Regions from separate parts of the Homo sapiens genome. Here region 2 is linked to region 1. A link means that fine-mapping ties the variant in region 1 to the expression of a gene that starts in the linked region. Tissue or cell type: esophagus muscle. Region 1 holds a variant in brackets; the other region holds the start of a gene. All regions are shown on one strand. Distances are between the middles of the regions.

Region 1 (8,104 bases):
TAAATGCCTATATCAAAAAGTCTGAAAGAGCACAAATAAACAATCTAAGGTCACACCTCACAGAATTGGAGAAACTAGAACAGTCCAAATCCAAACCCAGCAGAAGAAAAGAAATAACAAAATCAGAACAAAACTAAATGAAATTGAAACAAAAAAATACAACAGATAAATGAAAAAGCTGGTTCTTTGAAAAGATAAATAAAATTGATAAGCATTAGCAAGATTAATCAAGAAAAGAAGAGAGAAGATCCAAATAAGCTCTATTAGAAATGAAATGGGAGATATTACCACTGATACCACAGAAATACAAAAGATTATTCAAGACTACTATGAACATCTTCACATCCATAAACTAGAAAACCTACAGGAGATCGATAAATTCCTGGAAATATACAACCCTCCTGGATTAAATTAGGAAGATATAGAGACTCTGAACAGACCAATCAGAAGCAGCAAGATTGAAAATGGTAATTTAAAAATTGCCAACAACAAAAAAGTCCAGGACCAGATGAATTCACACCTGAATTCTATCAGACATTCAAAGAATTGGTACTCATCCTATTAACACTATTTCACAGGATAGAGAAAGAGAAATCTTCCCTAAATCATTTGATGAAACCAAAATCACCATGATATGGTTTGGCTCTGTGTCCCCACCCAAATCTCATCTTTTAGCTCCCATAATTCCCACATGTTGTGAGAAGGACCCAGTAGGAGATGATTGAATCATGAGGGCGGGTCTTTTCCATGCTGTTCTCATGACAGTGAGTGAATGTCACAAGATCTGATGGTTTTAAAAACAGGACTTTCTCTACACAAGCTCTTTCTTTTTGCCTGCTGCCATCCACGTAGGATGTGACTTGCTCTTCCTTGACTCTACCATGACTTTGAGGCCTCCCCAAATATGTGGAACTGTAAGTCAAATAAACCTCTTTCTTTTGTAAATTGCCCAGTCTCAGATATGTCTTTATCAGCAGTGTGAAAATGGACTAATACACACCCTAATACTGAAACAGACTAATAGACACCCTAATACCAAAAGCAAGGAAGGACATAATGAGAAAAGAAAGCTACAGACCAACATCCCTGATGAACAGAGATGCAGTAATCCTCAAAAAAAATACTAGCTAGCTGAATCTAACAACATATCAAAAAGATAATCCATCATGATCAAGTGGGTTTCATACCAGGGATGCAGGGATGGTTTAACATCTACAAGTCAATAAATGCGATACACTACATAAACAGAATTAAAAAACAAAAGTCACATGATCATCTCAATAGATGCAGAAAAACCACTTGAGAAAATCCAGCATCCTTATTTTATTAAGACCCTCAGCAAAATCAGCATAGAAGGGACATACATTAAGGTAATAAAAGCCATCTATGACAAACCCACAGCCAGCATTATACTGAACAGGGAAAAGTTGAAAGCATTCCTCCTGAAAACTGGAAGAAGACAAGATTGCCCGCTTTCTCCACTTCTATTCAACATGGTACTGGAAGTTCTAGCCAGAGCAATCAGACAAGAGAAAGAAATCAAGGGCATCCAAAGTGGTAAAGAAGAAGTCTGCCTATTGCTGTTTCCCAATGATATGATTGTATACCTAGAAAACCCTAAAGACTCATCCAAAAAGCTTCTAGAACTGGTAAATGCATTCAGCAAAGTTTCAGGATACAGAGTTACACACAAGTGTGCACAAATCCGTAGCTGTGCTATACACCTTCAGCGACCAAGCCAAGAATCAAATCAATAACTCAACCCTTTTTACAATAGCTACAAATAATAATAATAATAATAAAATACTTAGGAATGTTCCTAACCAAGGAGGTGAAAGATCTCTGCGTGGAAAACTACAAAACACTACTGAAAGAAATCACAGATGACACAAACAAATGGCAGCACATCCCATGCTCATGGATGGGTAGAATCAATATTGTGAAAATGACCATACTGCCAAAAGCAATCTACAAATTTAATCCAATTCCCATCAAAATACCACCATCATTCTTTACAAAATGATGAAAAATAATCCCAAAATTCATATGGAACCAAAAAAGAGCCTACATAGCCAAAGGAAGACTAACCAAAAAGAATAAATCTGGTGACATCACATTACCTAACTCCAAACTATTCTGTAACACCATAGTCACTAAAACAGCATGATACTGGTATAAAAATAGGCACATAGACCAATGGAACAGAATAGAGAACCCAGAATTAAAGCCAAATACTTACAGCCAGCTGATCTTCAACAAAGTGAGGAAAGGACACCCTATTCAACAAATAGTGCTGGGATAATTGGCTAGCCACATTTAGGAGAATGAAACTGGATCCTTATCTCTCACCTTATACAAAAATCAACTCAAGATGGATCAAGAACTTAAGACCTGAAGCCTTAAAAATTCTAGAAGATAACATTGGAAAAACCCTTCTAGACATTGGCTTAGGCAAAGACTTCATGACCAAGAAGCTCAAAACAAATGCAACAAAAACAAAAGATAAATAGATGGGACTTAACTAAACTAAAAAGCTTTTGCACAGCAAAAGAAATAATTAGCAGAGTTAACAGACAACACACAGAGTGGGAGAAAATCTTCACAACCTACACATCCAACAAAGGACTAATATTCAGAATCTACAAAGAACTCAAATCAGTAAGAAAGAAACCAATCCCATAAAAAAGTGGGCTAAGGACACGAATAGACAATTCTCAAAAGAAAATATACAAATGGCCAACAAGCATATGGAAAAATGCTCAACATCACTAATGATCAGGGAAATGCAAATCAAAACCACAATGCGATATCACCTCATTCCTGTAAGAATGGCAATATTAAAAAAATTAAAAAATAATAGATGTCGGCATGGATGTGGTGGAAAGGGAGCACTTTTATAGTGTTGATGCTAATGTAAACTAGTACAACCACTATGGAAAACGGTGTGGAGATTGCTTAAAGAACTAAAAGTAGATCTACCATTTGATCCAACAACCCCATTCCTCAGTATCTACCCAGAGGAAAAGAAGTCATTATACAAAAAAGATACTTGTACACACGTTTATAAGCAGCAAAATTCATAATTGTGAAAATATGGAACCAGCCCAAATGCCCATCAATCAATGAGTGGATAAAGAAAATGTGATATGTGCACACACACCCCATGGAATACTACTCAGCCATAAAAAGGAGCAAACTG[G/A]ATGGAATTGGAGACCATTCTTCTAATTGCAGCAACCTGGATGGAATTGGAGACCATTCTTCTAAGTGAAGTAGCTCAAGAATGGAAAACCAAACATCATATGTTCTCATATGTGGGAACTAAGCTATGAGAATGTAAAGGCATAAGAATGATACAGTGGACTTTGGGGACTCAGGGGAAATGGTGGGAAGGGAGTGAGAAATAAAAGACTACACATTGAGTACAGTGTACACTGCTCGGGTGAGGGATGCACCAAAATCTCAAAAATCACCACTAAAGAACTTATTTATATAACCAAACACCACCTGTTCCTTAAAAACCTATTGAAATAAAAAGTAAATTTAAAAAAAACCTCCTGGATTCATTGATTTTTTTGAAGGTTTTTTTGTGTCTCTATTTCAGTTCAGCTCTGATCTTGGTTATTTCTTGTCTTCTGCTAGCTTGGGAGTTTGTTTCCTCTTGGTTCTCTAGTCCTTTTAGTTGTAATATTAGGTTGTTAACTTGAGATCTTTCTCTCTTTTTGATGTGGGCATTTAGTGCTATAAATTTTCCTCTTAACACTGCTTTAGCTGAGTCCTGGAGATTCTGTTATGTTGTCTCTTTGTTCTAATTAGTTTTAAAACACTTCTTGATCTCTGCCATAATTTTATTATTTACCCCAAAGTCATTCAGGAGCAGATTGTTCAATTTCCATATAGTTGTGTGGTTTTAAGTGAATTTCTTAATCTTGAGTTCTAATTTGATTGTGCTGTGGTCTGAGAGACTCTTTGTTATGATTTCAGTTATTTTTCATTTGCTGAGGAGTGTTTTTCTTCCTAATTTATGATTAGTTTTAGGGTAAGTGTCATGTGGCTATGAGAAGAATGTATATTCGCTTGTTTTTTGTTGGAGAGTTCTGTAGATATCTATCATGTCTACTTGATCCACAGCTGAGTTCAGGTCCTGAATATCTTTGTTAATTTTCTGTCTCCATGATGTGTCTAATATTGTCATTGTGGTGTTAAAGTCTCCCACTATTATTGTGTGGGAGTCTAAGTCTCTTTGAAGGTCTCCAATAACTTGCTTTATGAACCTGGGTGCTCTTGTATAGGGTGCATATATATTTAGGATAGTTAGCTCTTCTGGTTGAATTGAACCCTTTACCAACAGGTAGTGCTCTTCTTTGTCTTTTTTGATCTTTGTTAATTTAAAGTCTGTTTTGTTAGAAACTAGGATTGCAAGCTCTGTTTTTTTCTGCTTTCTGTTTGCTTGGTAAATTTTCCTCCATCCCTTTATTTTTAGCGTATGTGTTTCTTTGTGTGTGAGATGGGTCTCTTGAATACAGCATACTGATGGGTCTTGGTTCTTTATCTAGCTTGCCATTCTGTGTCTTTCATTGGAGAACACATTGAGATTTAAGGTTAGTAGTATTATATGTGGATTTGATCTCATCATCATGATGCTAGCTGGTTATTTTGCTAACTTGTTTGTGTGGTTGCTTCACAGTGTCACTGTTCTTTGTACTTTAGTGTGTTTTTCTGGTGCCTGGTAATGGTTTTTCCTTTTCATATTTACTGCTTCCTTCAGGAGCTCTTGCAAGACAGGTCTGGTAGTAACAAGTTCCCTCAGCATTTGCTTGTCTGAAAAGCATCTTATTTATCCTTTGCTTATGAAGCTTGGTTTGGCCAGATGTGAAATTCTGGGTTGGAAATTCTTTTCTTTAAGAATGTTGAATATTGGTTCCCAGTATCTTCTGACTTGTAGGGTTTCCACTGAGAGGTCGGCTGTTCATCTGATGGGGTTCCCTTTGTAGGTGACCTGGCCTTTCTGTCTGACTGCCCTTAACATTTTTTCTTTCATTTAGAGTTTGGAGAATCTGATGATTATGTGTCTCAGGGATGATCTCCTCGTGGAGTATCTCACTGGAGTTCTCTGGATTTCTTGAATTTGAGTGTTGGCCTGTCTTGCTAGAACTAACCTGGGGAAGTTAGTTCTCTTGAATCCTATGCTGAAGTATGTTTTCCAACTTGGTTCCATTCTCCTTGTCTTTTTCAGGTACCCCAATCCATCATAGATTCGTTCTCTTTATGTAATCCCATATTTTTTGATGGTATCGTTCGTTCCTTTTCATTCTTTTATCTCTATTCTTGTCTGCCTGTCTTATTTCAGAAAGATTGTCTTCAAGCTCTGAGATTCTTTTCTTGGGCTATTCTGCTGTTAATAATTGTGATTTCATTGTGAAGTTCTTGTAGTGTGTTTTTCAGCTCTAACAGGTGAGTTATGTTTTTCTCTAGACCGGCTATTTTGGCTGTCCGCTCCTGTATTGTTTTGTCATGATTCTTAGTTTCTTTGCATTGGGTTACAAGATGCTCCTTTAGGTCATTGAAGTTCACTGTTATTCACATTCTGAAGCCTACTCTGTCATTTCAGCCATCTCAGGCTCAACCCAGTTCTGAGCCCTTGCTGGAGAGGTGTTGCAGGGATATTCTGGCTTTTTGAGTCCTCAGGATTTTGGGGTTATTTCTCATCTCTGTGGGTCTATCTTAAACTTTGACCTTGAGGATGGGGTTTTTGTGGCTTTTTAAATTGTTATTGTTGTTGTTTCCTGCTTGTTTTTCTTTTAACAGTCTGGCCACTCTTCTGCAGGGCTGCTGCAGTTTGCTGGGGGTTCGCACTATACCCTAGTTGCCTCGGTTTTTCCCATAGCTGGAGGTATCATCAGTGAAGTCTGTGAAACAGCAAAGATGGCTGCCTGCCACTTCCTCTGGAAGCTCCAGCCCAGCAGCGTACTGACTTATTGCTGGCTCGAAAGTGCATGTAAGGAGGTGGCTGGAGACCCCAGTTGGGAGGTCTCCTCCAGTCAGGAGAAATGGGATAAGGGACCTGCTTAAAGAATGATTCTGGCTACTTTTTGGTAGACCAGCTGTGCTGTGTTGGGGATCCCTTCAGTTCCCATTCAGTTTGGGCTGTCCAAAGGCCCACAGGCTGAATTGGCTGAGAAGCTTGAAAGGCCTAGGTGGCAGCCTGCCCCACCCCTCAGGCACTCCATCCCGGGAAGAAATTAGAGCTCTGTTAGCCCCATAGAACATGAGTGACCTACAATTTTGATTTGCCCTTTTACTGGTGATGTTGGCATTGATCACAAACAGTGGTGTCTGCTAGCTTTCTCCTCTGTAATGTTACTTTTTCACCTTGTAATTAATTAATATTAATATTTTGTGGGGAGGTAATTTGAGACTATGTAGATATCTCTGTTCTTCATCAAACTCAATTTATTCATTTACTTGATTTGATATTTACTTGTGGTTTATTTCATTTAATAGGTTATAATTTGACAATTTTTTTAACAATTTTTTTCTTTTTAGAAATGTTTTATTTTGACAATTTTAGACTTATAGAAAAATAGTAAGAAACCTACAAAACATTCTTGGATACTATTCCCCAAATGTGAACATTTTACTATATTTGCTTTATCCTTTCTCCCCCTTTTCCTCTTCTCTTTCTAGGTAAATATAAATGTAGGTGCATAATATAGACTTTTTCTGAATGGTTTATAAGTTGCAGGTATGATGCCTCTTTATTTCTAAATAATTTTATGTGTGTCTCCTAAAAACAATGCATTATCTTGCATAATTATAGTATAACTATCAAAATCAGGAAATTAAAAATGGTTTACTGTTAATATCTCATCCATAAACCTTATTTTACTTTTTTCAGTTGTCTCAATAATATTTTTTATAGCCAAATAATTTAAGATGGGTGATTTTACAATCCATGATGTTGACTTTCATAATCCATGATGTTGAGAGGTTTCAGCATTTTTACGTTGATTCTTTCTCATCTCTGTGGGCCTATCTACCTTTGATGTTTGAGGTTGCTGGCCTTTGGAGGAGGTCGATCTGTGTCAAATTATTCTGTCTTTTTAGTCTCTTTTAGTCCAGCATGATTCCTGAGTCTTTCCTTGATTTTCATGGCATTTATGTGTTTGAAGAGTATGGGTCAGTTTTTTGTGGATTTTCTCTCAGTTTGGGTTCATAGGATATTTCTTCATGATTCAGTTCAGGTTATACCATTCAGGCAGGAAGGTCACACAAGTGAGGCTGAGTTCTTCCCAATGCAGCATATCTGGAGGCATATGCTGTTACTTGGCTCCATTACTGGCCAGTGTTGGCTTTGTTTGAGAATCTACCAGGTCTGTCCATGATAAAGTGACTATCTACCCTTTGTTTTTCACCAATGTCTTACGTGAACATAGTTTGAGGCTCTGTAAATATCTGGTTACTCTAAACATCTCACCCACTAGATTTAGCATTTCATTGATTATTTTTGTTGGGTCAGTTATTATTATGGTGGTTGCCAAATCATGATTGTCTTCATCTTTCATTCCTTCTAAGTGGATAAGTAAAACAAAACAAAACCAACCAACAAATAGGGGAGAAGGGAAAATTTATTGTTTTGCTGTTCAGGTTCCCTCCGCTTTGACCAGTGGTAGCCATTTCAAGCTGAGTTCATGTCTTTTTGAACTGTCCTTATTGTTCTTTGAATACTTCCTTACTTTCTGGCATAAGCTGTTTCAACCATACTTCGTATTTTCTCTGCCCTAGCCCTTGAATCAGCCATTTTCATTTTTTTCCAGAAGCCCTGACTTTCTTTAGGGGACAGTAATTAGAAACCAATATCTGGGCAGTAATTGTGGTAGATACGTATGGCTATTGGAGTTGTCATTGCTCATAGGCTTCCTCAGTGAACAGAGCAGAAAAATACAGCTAGATGGATAAATATACAAACATACATGCTTATATTCATCCATATTTCTATATTAGAATATACTGAAAACCATGAGTTCTTCCTGGTGATTCTAATTCCAGTTGAATCACACATGGCTCATTTTAGTTTTTTTTTCCCTTTCAGTACTCTTGACCTTTG
Region 2 (8,104 bases), 92 kb before region 1:
AGGCGGGAGTGGAATGGTGCCGTCTCAGCTCACTGCAACCTCCGCCTCCTTTGTTTAAGTGATTCTGCTGCCTCAGCCTCCCAAGTAGCTGGAATTACAGGCGCCCACCACCACATCTGGCTATTTTTTTTTTTTTTTTGTATTTTTAGTAGAGAGAGGGTTTCATCATGTTGCTCCTGCTGGTCTCGAACTCCTGACCTCAGATAATCCACCTGCCTCAGCCTCCCAAAGTGCTGGGATTATGGGCATGAGCCACCGAGCCCGGCTGTTTTTTTTGTTTTTTTTTTTTTTTTTTTTTGAGACAGAGTTTTGCTCTGTTGCTCAGGCTGGAGTGCCAGTGGCGCGATTTCAGCTCACTCAGGGGTGAGCCACCACACCTGGCCTGTGATTGGCTCTGTTTTTAGTAATTATGTGCAAACCATCTAGAACCAGCTCTGGGCAATGGTGTTGCAATTTCCCTCCCTCCATGCTGGCACCATACCAGCCCCTCTCCAATGGGAGCCCAAGTTGCCAGTGACTGTGGCCAAACTCTCCATTTTTGTCTGTATCCTGCTCTCTTTAGGTTAAAAAGAAGGAAAGAAACATGAAAGGCCATGTGCAATTTATTTTTATAACTCAAGGAGTTTCCCCGACTACCATTTTTTTTGTTGCCAGTGGGTGTGCATATAGAAGAGGAATGCTATATCCTGTCCCTAGAAGTACACATGGTGGTCAGGTATGGTGGCTTATGCCTGTAATCCCAGCACTTTGGGAGGCTGAGATGGGAGGATTGCTTGAGCCCAGGAGTTCGGGACCAGCCTGGGCAACATGGCAAGACCTCTGACTCCACAAAAAAAAATTGTTTTTTTTTTGAGAGAGCATCTCACTCCGTCGCCCAGGCTGGAGTGGTATAATCTTGGCTCACTGCAACCTCTGCCTCTGTCACACACACAAACACACACACACACACACACACACACACACACACACACAAAGAAAAGAAATACAGGCGGTGTTTCAGGGAAGGGAAGGTTCTGCTGGGGTCCTGGAACTGTGACTGATGGCCTCAGGGATGCAGGAATAGGCCTTCTAGCACAGCAGCTAGTAGGCTCCCCCAGGCCATCCGCTGGCGTGTGGAGGTGCAGGACCTGGGGGAGGCAGTCCTCACCCCAGCTAGGCCAAGGGGTAGGGTTTTTAGGTCTGTTTTTAACAGAACTCAGAGCACCAGGTGAAGGTGGAAAGTTGGTAAACTGGGAAAACAAGGTCAGCATCTTACATTTTCTATACTCAGCAGAGTGTGCCATTCCCGGTTTCTGTCCTGAGGCTTTCAGAGGCCACAACAGCCAGGTTTCTTTCCATCTTCCCTCAGTCAGTATGTAGTCATTTAAAATTCTTTGGTTGTTCTGAAGATCCTTTTTTTATGTATAATTTTTACATGAAAGACAGCTGCAAAATGCAAGCCTCAGTAGAGTGGGGGAGTTTTTCAAGGTGAGAAGTCGCTGTTCTCTGCACTGAACAGGGATTGAATTTTCCTTGTCTGATGGTAGCCCATCCCCCTCCCCCGCCGCCCCCCGCAGGGATAACATTCTCAGGAATTTCTCTTGTCCTAGCCCCTTTCATTTCAAAAACAATATTAGTCTTTTGTTTTCCTTTTTCATTCATTTGTTTTTTTACAGCTTTTGTAGAGACCAACCCAAGTAGATGCCAGTGGGTATTAAACAAAAACACACATACCCAGGGGACAAGCCCTCCAGCGGTGAGGAATCTCTGCCATGTTCTCTTCCCTGCTGCCCACGAACATTACGGAGACTCCCTTAGTCTCCCCCTCCTCTTCCCCACTGAGGGGCGGCTTGTGGAGATGGAGGACTCGGGCCCATAGATGCAGACCCACTGTCAAATCCAGCAATAGTTCTCATTCTTCCAAAGCTCGAGTGCCATTTTGAGATGCCCTACCAATGACATGCAGTAAAGGACATAACCTCACAGCCTTTTTAGAAGCATTTTGAATATCTACAGTTGCCTCAATTCACGGGGCATTTCATTCCTCTGATCCAGGTTAGAGTTTTGCTAAATCTGTAGCATCCTGAGTAGCACACTAATTTTTTTTTTAGCACACTAACTTTAACTACATTAGTTGAGTGTAGTTGATACATCTGTGGCCTTGTGTCTATAAAGAGCACACTAGATTGTACCCAGCACTTTTGGATATGACATGCTAATTAGATGTATTTAACTATTCATAGGAAAGTGTATGATAAATGACTGTAATATTTCTAATAAATATATTTTGTTTCTAATTATTTTTTTCTCACTGACATGTATCAATATTTTTTCAAAGTGCCACCCTTAAACTGAGTCTGTTTTCAGACCAGCATCTTCATGCATATATCCTTGTCAGGTCACAGTCTCCACTGCAGCTGCTCTTGCGGGTGGTGCTGGAATTTTCCACAGAGGACTGGGCTCCTGCTGGTTCCTCCGCTGCCCGTGTGCAGCTTTCTTGCTCAGGCCACAGGCTTACGTGAAGATCACCCTTCAAGGCCTACCCAGGACACTGCTGAGCTGTGCAGATGTGCACACGATATGTGCAATGTCATACGTGTGACTAAATGCCAACTGAGACCCCAGAAACCACTCATAGGGGGAATTATGCCAAGATTGAGGAGGCAGGGTGATACTTTTTTTCTTTTTCTGTTTTTTTTTTTTTTTTTTTTTTTGAGATGGAGTCTAGCCCTGTCGCCAGGCTGGAGTACAGTGGCATGATCTTGACTCACTGCAACCTCCACCTCCTGGGTTCAAGCGATTCTTTTGTCTCAGCCTCCCGAGTAGCTGGGACTACAGGCACGTGCCAGCACGCCCAACTAATTTTTGTATTTTTAGTAGAGAACAAGGGGTCACCATGTTAGCCAGGATGGTCTTGATCTCTTGACCTCATGATCTACCTGCCTCTGCCTCCCAAAGTGTTGGGATTACAGGTGGGAGCCACTGCGCCCGGCCACAGATATTTTGTAAATGATTGCTTCCTTACGCCTTTCTAGTTCATGTTTTCTTATACATAGTTACATTTCTTCTTTGCTATACTAAAAATCCCTAATTTTAGTTGGTCAGAGAGAGGGATTTGAGACTGAGCTCCCATCTCCTCGGCTGCAGCATCTGATTAAAGCCTTCTTCCTTTGCAATACTCATCTCAGTGATTGGCTTTCTGTGGGTGAGCAGCGCAGGATCTAGGCTGAAGCCCTGAGGCTTCAGTGACAAAATCTGTTTTTCATAATGCTATCTGTCTTAATTGTCCTCAAGAATTAGTATTTGAGTGCTCTCTAGATTCTCCTTTGTCACCCTTCCTTCCTTTCTTTCTTCCTTTCTTCCTTCCTTCTTTCCTTCTCTTTGCTTCGTTCTCTCCTTCCTTCTTTTCTTTCTTTTTTTGAGACGGAGTCTTGCTCTGTCGCCCAGGCTGGAGTTTGGTGGCACGATATCAGCTCACTGCAACGTTCACCTCCCGGGTTCAAGAGATTCTCCTGTCTCAGCCTCTGGAGTAGCTGGGACTACAGGCACGCGCCACCACGCCCAACTAATTTTTGTATTTTTAGTAGAGAGGGTTTCACCATGTTGGCCAGGCTGGCCTCAAACTCCTGACCTCAAGTGATCTGCCCGCCTCAACCTCCCAAAGTGCTGGGATTACAGGTGTGAGCCACCGCGCCTGGCCGTCACTTTTCTTCAATCTCACTGGTGCTCGCGGGCTGAAGGGTCAGGACGGACTAGAGGCGAGCAATCCTGGTGGCACCAGGCGTTCCCCGACCCGCCCGGGTCGCCAGCTGCACGGACCCTGGGCAGATGCGCGCAGCGGCTGCGGCACACGGCGGGGAGCGGCTGCTTGGCCCCATCCTAAGGCAGCAGAATGCCCAGAGCTGGTCCCTGGCTCCAGGCGCAGGCCGAGTAGGAGCTGGGCGGGCAGCGGCGTCGGGCAGGCCCTTCCAGCCGGGCTGACAGGCCGCTCTGACCCAGCCATCTGACTCCGCTTGCGTCCTGGCAGCGCGGACCCTAGGGCAACTTTGCTGCAGTGGCCAAGCCGGGGGCGGAACTGACCCGTACCCCTGAACCGAGCAAGCCTAGGAGCAGGTGCGCCGGCGGCGCTGTGAAGCGGCACTCATGACAGGCAGGCTGGGCACCGCCACCCCGAAACCTCCGAGGGAGGACCAGCCAGCCCAGGTTGGCGCTGGAGCTGCAGCGCCACCTGCAGGCCAAGGAGTCTTTTTCTGGGAGGCTGGAGCTGCAGCGCCACCTGCAGGCCAAGGAGTCTTTTTCTGGGAGGCTGGAGCTGCAGCGCCACCTGCAGGCCAAGGAGTCTTTTTCTGGGAGGCTGGAGCTGCAGATGCAGTGAAGTCACAGGTTCCGTGATGTCACAGGTGGGCAGGCGCACTGGTCTGTAACGGATTGGCTTGGCCTTACCCACGAGGCTTTGCGGTGGCTGTTGGCTTGGCGGTGGTCGCTTGGCTTGGCGTGGCAGTGATCGCTTGGCTTGGCATTTCTGGCTTGGCGGTCCTCCTTTCGCAGATTGGAAACCGCGGGCTATCCTGCTGGGAGGTTGTGGCCGAGGCAGTAGCTCGCTACTGATGGCCTCCTGGGGTGGAGAAAAGCGGGGAGGGGCTGAGGGGTCTCCGAAGCCGGCAGTCTACGCCACGAGGAAGACCCCTAGCGTCGGGAGCCAGGGGGACCAGTGGTACTTGGGCTACCCGGGGGACCAGTGGTCCTCGGGCTTCCCCTACAGCTGGTGGAAAAACAGCGTCGGCAGCGAGAGCAAGCACGGTGAGGGCGCCTTAGACCAGCCCCAGCACGACGTCCGCCTGGAAGATCTTGGCGAGCTCCACAGAGCTGCCCGGTCGGGCGACGTCCCTGGGGTGGAGCACATCTTAGCTCCTGGAGACACTGGCGTGGACAAGAGGGATAGGAAGAAGAGGTAATGGCCAGGCGAAGGATGCGCCGTCCTGTCGGGGACACTGGCTTTCTGGTGCCCGCAGGCCCCACGGCACCCGGGATGGGGAAACGTCAGAGGGGTCAGGGGCCCAGGCCTCTTAGTGAGACGGGATCAAATATAAAGGATTATTACTATTGCAAAAGTGTTGGTCTACTTTACAGGAGTTTTCTTTAAAAATATTGCACTTCCCAACTGTGTTTATCCATTTTCTCAATTTATTCATCAAACATAAGCTGAATACCTATTATACAGCAGACATATTCTACTGTCGCTCAGGTTCCTTCCATCCTTAAGAACTTCATGTTGGCCGAGCTCGGTGGCTCATGCCTGTAATCCCAGCACTTTGGGAGGCCGAGGAGGGCAGATCACGAGGTCAGAAGTTCGAGACCAGGCTGACCAACATGGTGAAACCCCGCCTGTTATGCTTTTGTCTCAGCCTAGACTTAGCTAAGACCTTCATGATAAATTATCCTTTAGGCCCTCGGGGTTCAGTTCAAATAATGTTGCAGAAAGAGAGGAGTTTCCTTTTTTCATTGCTACCAGATCTGTATGCTGAGGACCCTTTTCTTAGATCGTGGAATGTCCCATATTATCCTTTCCCAGATTTGTGGCAGGAAGCCATCACCAGAATTCTGAGTCTCAAGTATGTTAGTTGGATTTAACAGAGCTAAGTCTCATCCATGACTCATGAATATCCATGTATAAAATGAGAGCTTTGGCAGGGTGCAGTGGCTCATGCCTGTAATCCCAGCAATTTGGGAGGCTAAGGTGGGCGGATCACGAGGTCAGGTGATTGAGAGCATCCTGGCTAACACGGTGAAACCCCGTCACTACTAAAAAATACAAAAAAAAAATAGCCGGGCGTGGTGGTGGGCGCCTGTAGTCCCAGCTACTCAGGAGGCTAAGGCTGGAGAATGGCATGAACCCAGGAGGCGGAGCTTGCAGTGAGCCGAGATCGCGCCACTGCACTCCAGCCTGGGTGACAGAGCGAGACTCAGTCTAAAACAAACAAACAAACAAACAAACAAACAAAACTTGCTTCAGCAGCAAACATATACTGAAATTGGAACAAAATGGAGAGAAATTAGCATGGCCCCTGCCTGCATAAGGATGATGCACAGATTTTTGAAGTGGTCCATATTTTGCGCAGTCACTAGAAGTTCATTTGACTATTTGCTGACTAGTTCCAAAGACAGTGTGAGTCAAAGCAAACTGGGTATCACCTAATATTAAAATTGTGATTTTTCACTACAAAAATATGCAGTAAGGTGATCAATGGAGCTGAGTAACACGTGGGATGTTGTGTGCAAATATATTGTCAGTATGTATCTCAGAAATGAGAGAATGTCAACTTGCATGTCTTTCATGGAACTGAAAAAGAAAAGTAGCATTTTGTTTTCCATGTCAGTTGGAGATGAACATGGGGATTGAGCATCCTTCTAACAAAGATCTGCCGATTCAGAGTTTGAGTCTGTATGGAACAGTAGTCCAAGCTAGGTCTTGACATCTATTAGCTTTCTCCCCTTGGCGTGATTGATGAGCTCAGTAATAGTGGACAGTGTTGTTATCTAGTTTGATGAAATAATATATTTATAAGTAAATTTAGTTACAAACTATGAACTAGCTGTGATGCCCCAAATTATAAGCCACAAAGAATAGAACTAATAAAACTAGAACTTAATAACAGTTTTGGAAAACTGCAACATTTGAATATTAGAACCTCTGGAAAAATACACATTGGGTTTTATTTGTGATTCCAAAACCATTTCCTCAATAAAGCTCAAGAACAAATTATTTCATTGCTTCACTGTTTCTCTGAGCATTTACAAAACGTTTTCTTGTTAAATCTTTAACAACCTAGTGAAATAAGGCAGTAAAATCCTTGCTTTTTAGAAGAATACATTGAGCCTAAGAGAAGCAACTTGTCAGAGAATAAATAGCTGCTGGTAATAGAGCTAGGACGCTTTCCATTATGCCAAGCTAATGTGAGTTAATTTACTGAGCTATACTCCCTTCAATTCATGAGTACTTCATCTTTTTTTCTTCTTCAGAAGCTTAAAGAGAAGTTGGTAGAACTCACAAATTGAAGTATATGGGATAATTAAAGTTCTGATATTAACTCTGATATTGTTTGAAATACTCTAAAAATTTAATATATTTGGTATTTTTCATTTGTTTTAAAATAGTAATTTCATTTATTACATTTTTATCCATAGCATTCAGCAACTAGTTCCTGAATATAAGGAAAAACAGACACCTGAAAGTCTTCCTCAAAATAACAATCCAGGTAAGACTTCTGATAGTGAATTATTTTTGGTGGTCCTACCATAGGTAAAAAAGAAGTAAGAGTAAGGAAGTTTTGATCATGAAAGAGCAGTTTTAAAAAATCTTTATTTCTTTCTTGATAGGTTAGATTTCTTGGTAGGTTAGATGTCACAATTATTTAAAAAGTTAATTGTAGGTCATTTATTTTTTCAAACAATCTGGTCTGAAAAAAAATTAATTATGGTCCCTAAAATCCTATGTGATATTTTTGTATAAATAAGAAAAAGTGTTTTTTTTTGTTTTTTTTTTGAGACGGAGTCTCGCTGTCGCCCAGGCTGGAGTGCAGTGGTGCGATCTCGGCTCACTGCAGGCTCCACCCCCTGGTTCACGCCATTCTCTTGCCTCAGCCTGCGGAGTAGCTGGGACTACAGGCGCCCGCCACCCCGCCCGGCTAATTTTTTGTATTTTTAGTAGAGATGGGGTTTCACCGTGTTAGCCAGGATGGTCTCGATCTCCTGACCTCATGATCCATCCGCCTCGGCCTCCCAAAGTGCTGGGATTACAGGCGTGAGCCACCGCGCCCGGCCAAGAAAAAGATATTTTTGAGTTAGTAAGTTGTATGTTTTCTTTATAGTCACCTTATAATGAATTAGACTTGTTATGAAATTGGAACTTCTATTTAATTTTTAAAATAAATGACTTATGTTTAGTAAATGAATATCAATCACAATTGACCCTTAACAATGTGGAATTTAGGGATGCTTGATTCCCTCTGCAGTCAAACATCTGTGTATAACTTTTGACTCCCCCAAGAACGTAACTACTAATAGCTAACTGTTGACCAGCAGCCTTATTGATAACATAAACAGTCAATTAAGATATGTTTGGTAT

Evidence for each region. PIP is the estimated chance that this variant, and not a neighbour inherited with it, causes the effect.
Region 2: CCDC144A starts here. The variant in region 1 is fine-mapped to the expression of CCDC144A in esophagus muscle (GTEx, PIP above 0.99). The same link has a PIP of 0.9 or more in lung and testis.

Annotation. Positions count from the first base shown.
Region 1 is chr17:16,777,739-16,785,842 of GRCh38, forward strand. It overlaps CCDC144A (coiled-coil domain containing 144A), which reads left to right. Exons shown (of 17, transcript NM_001382000.1): 17 at 1-143. Among named protein-coding and RNA genes, the nearest start is that of FAM106C, 7.1 kb to the right of the region's middle. The variant G/A (reference allele first, on the strand shown) is at 3,200.
Region 2 is chr17:16,685,815-16,693,918 of GRCh38, forward strand. CCDC144A (coiled-coil domain containing 144A) reads left to right here and starts at 4,427. Exons shown (of 17, transcript NM_001382000.1): 1 at 4,427-4,930; 2 at 7,165-7,235. The coding sequence starts at 4,587. It also overlaps the pseudogene RNU6-405P. RefSeq lists enhancers at 1,129-1,629, 3,417-4,320.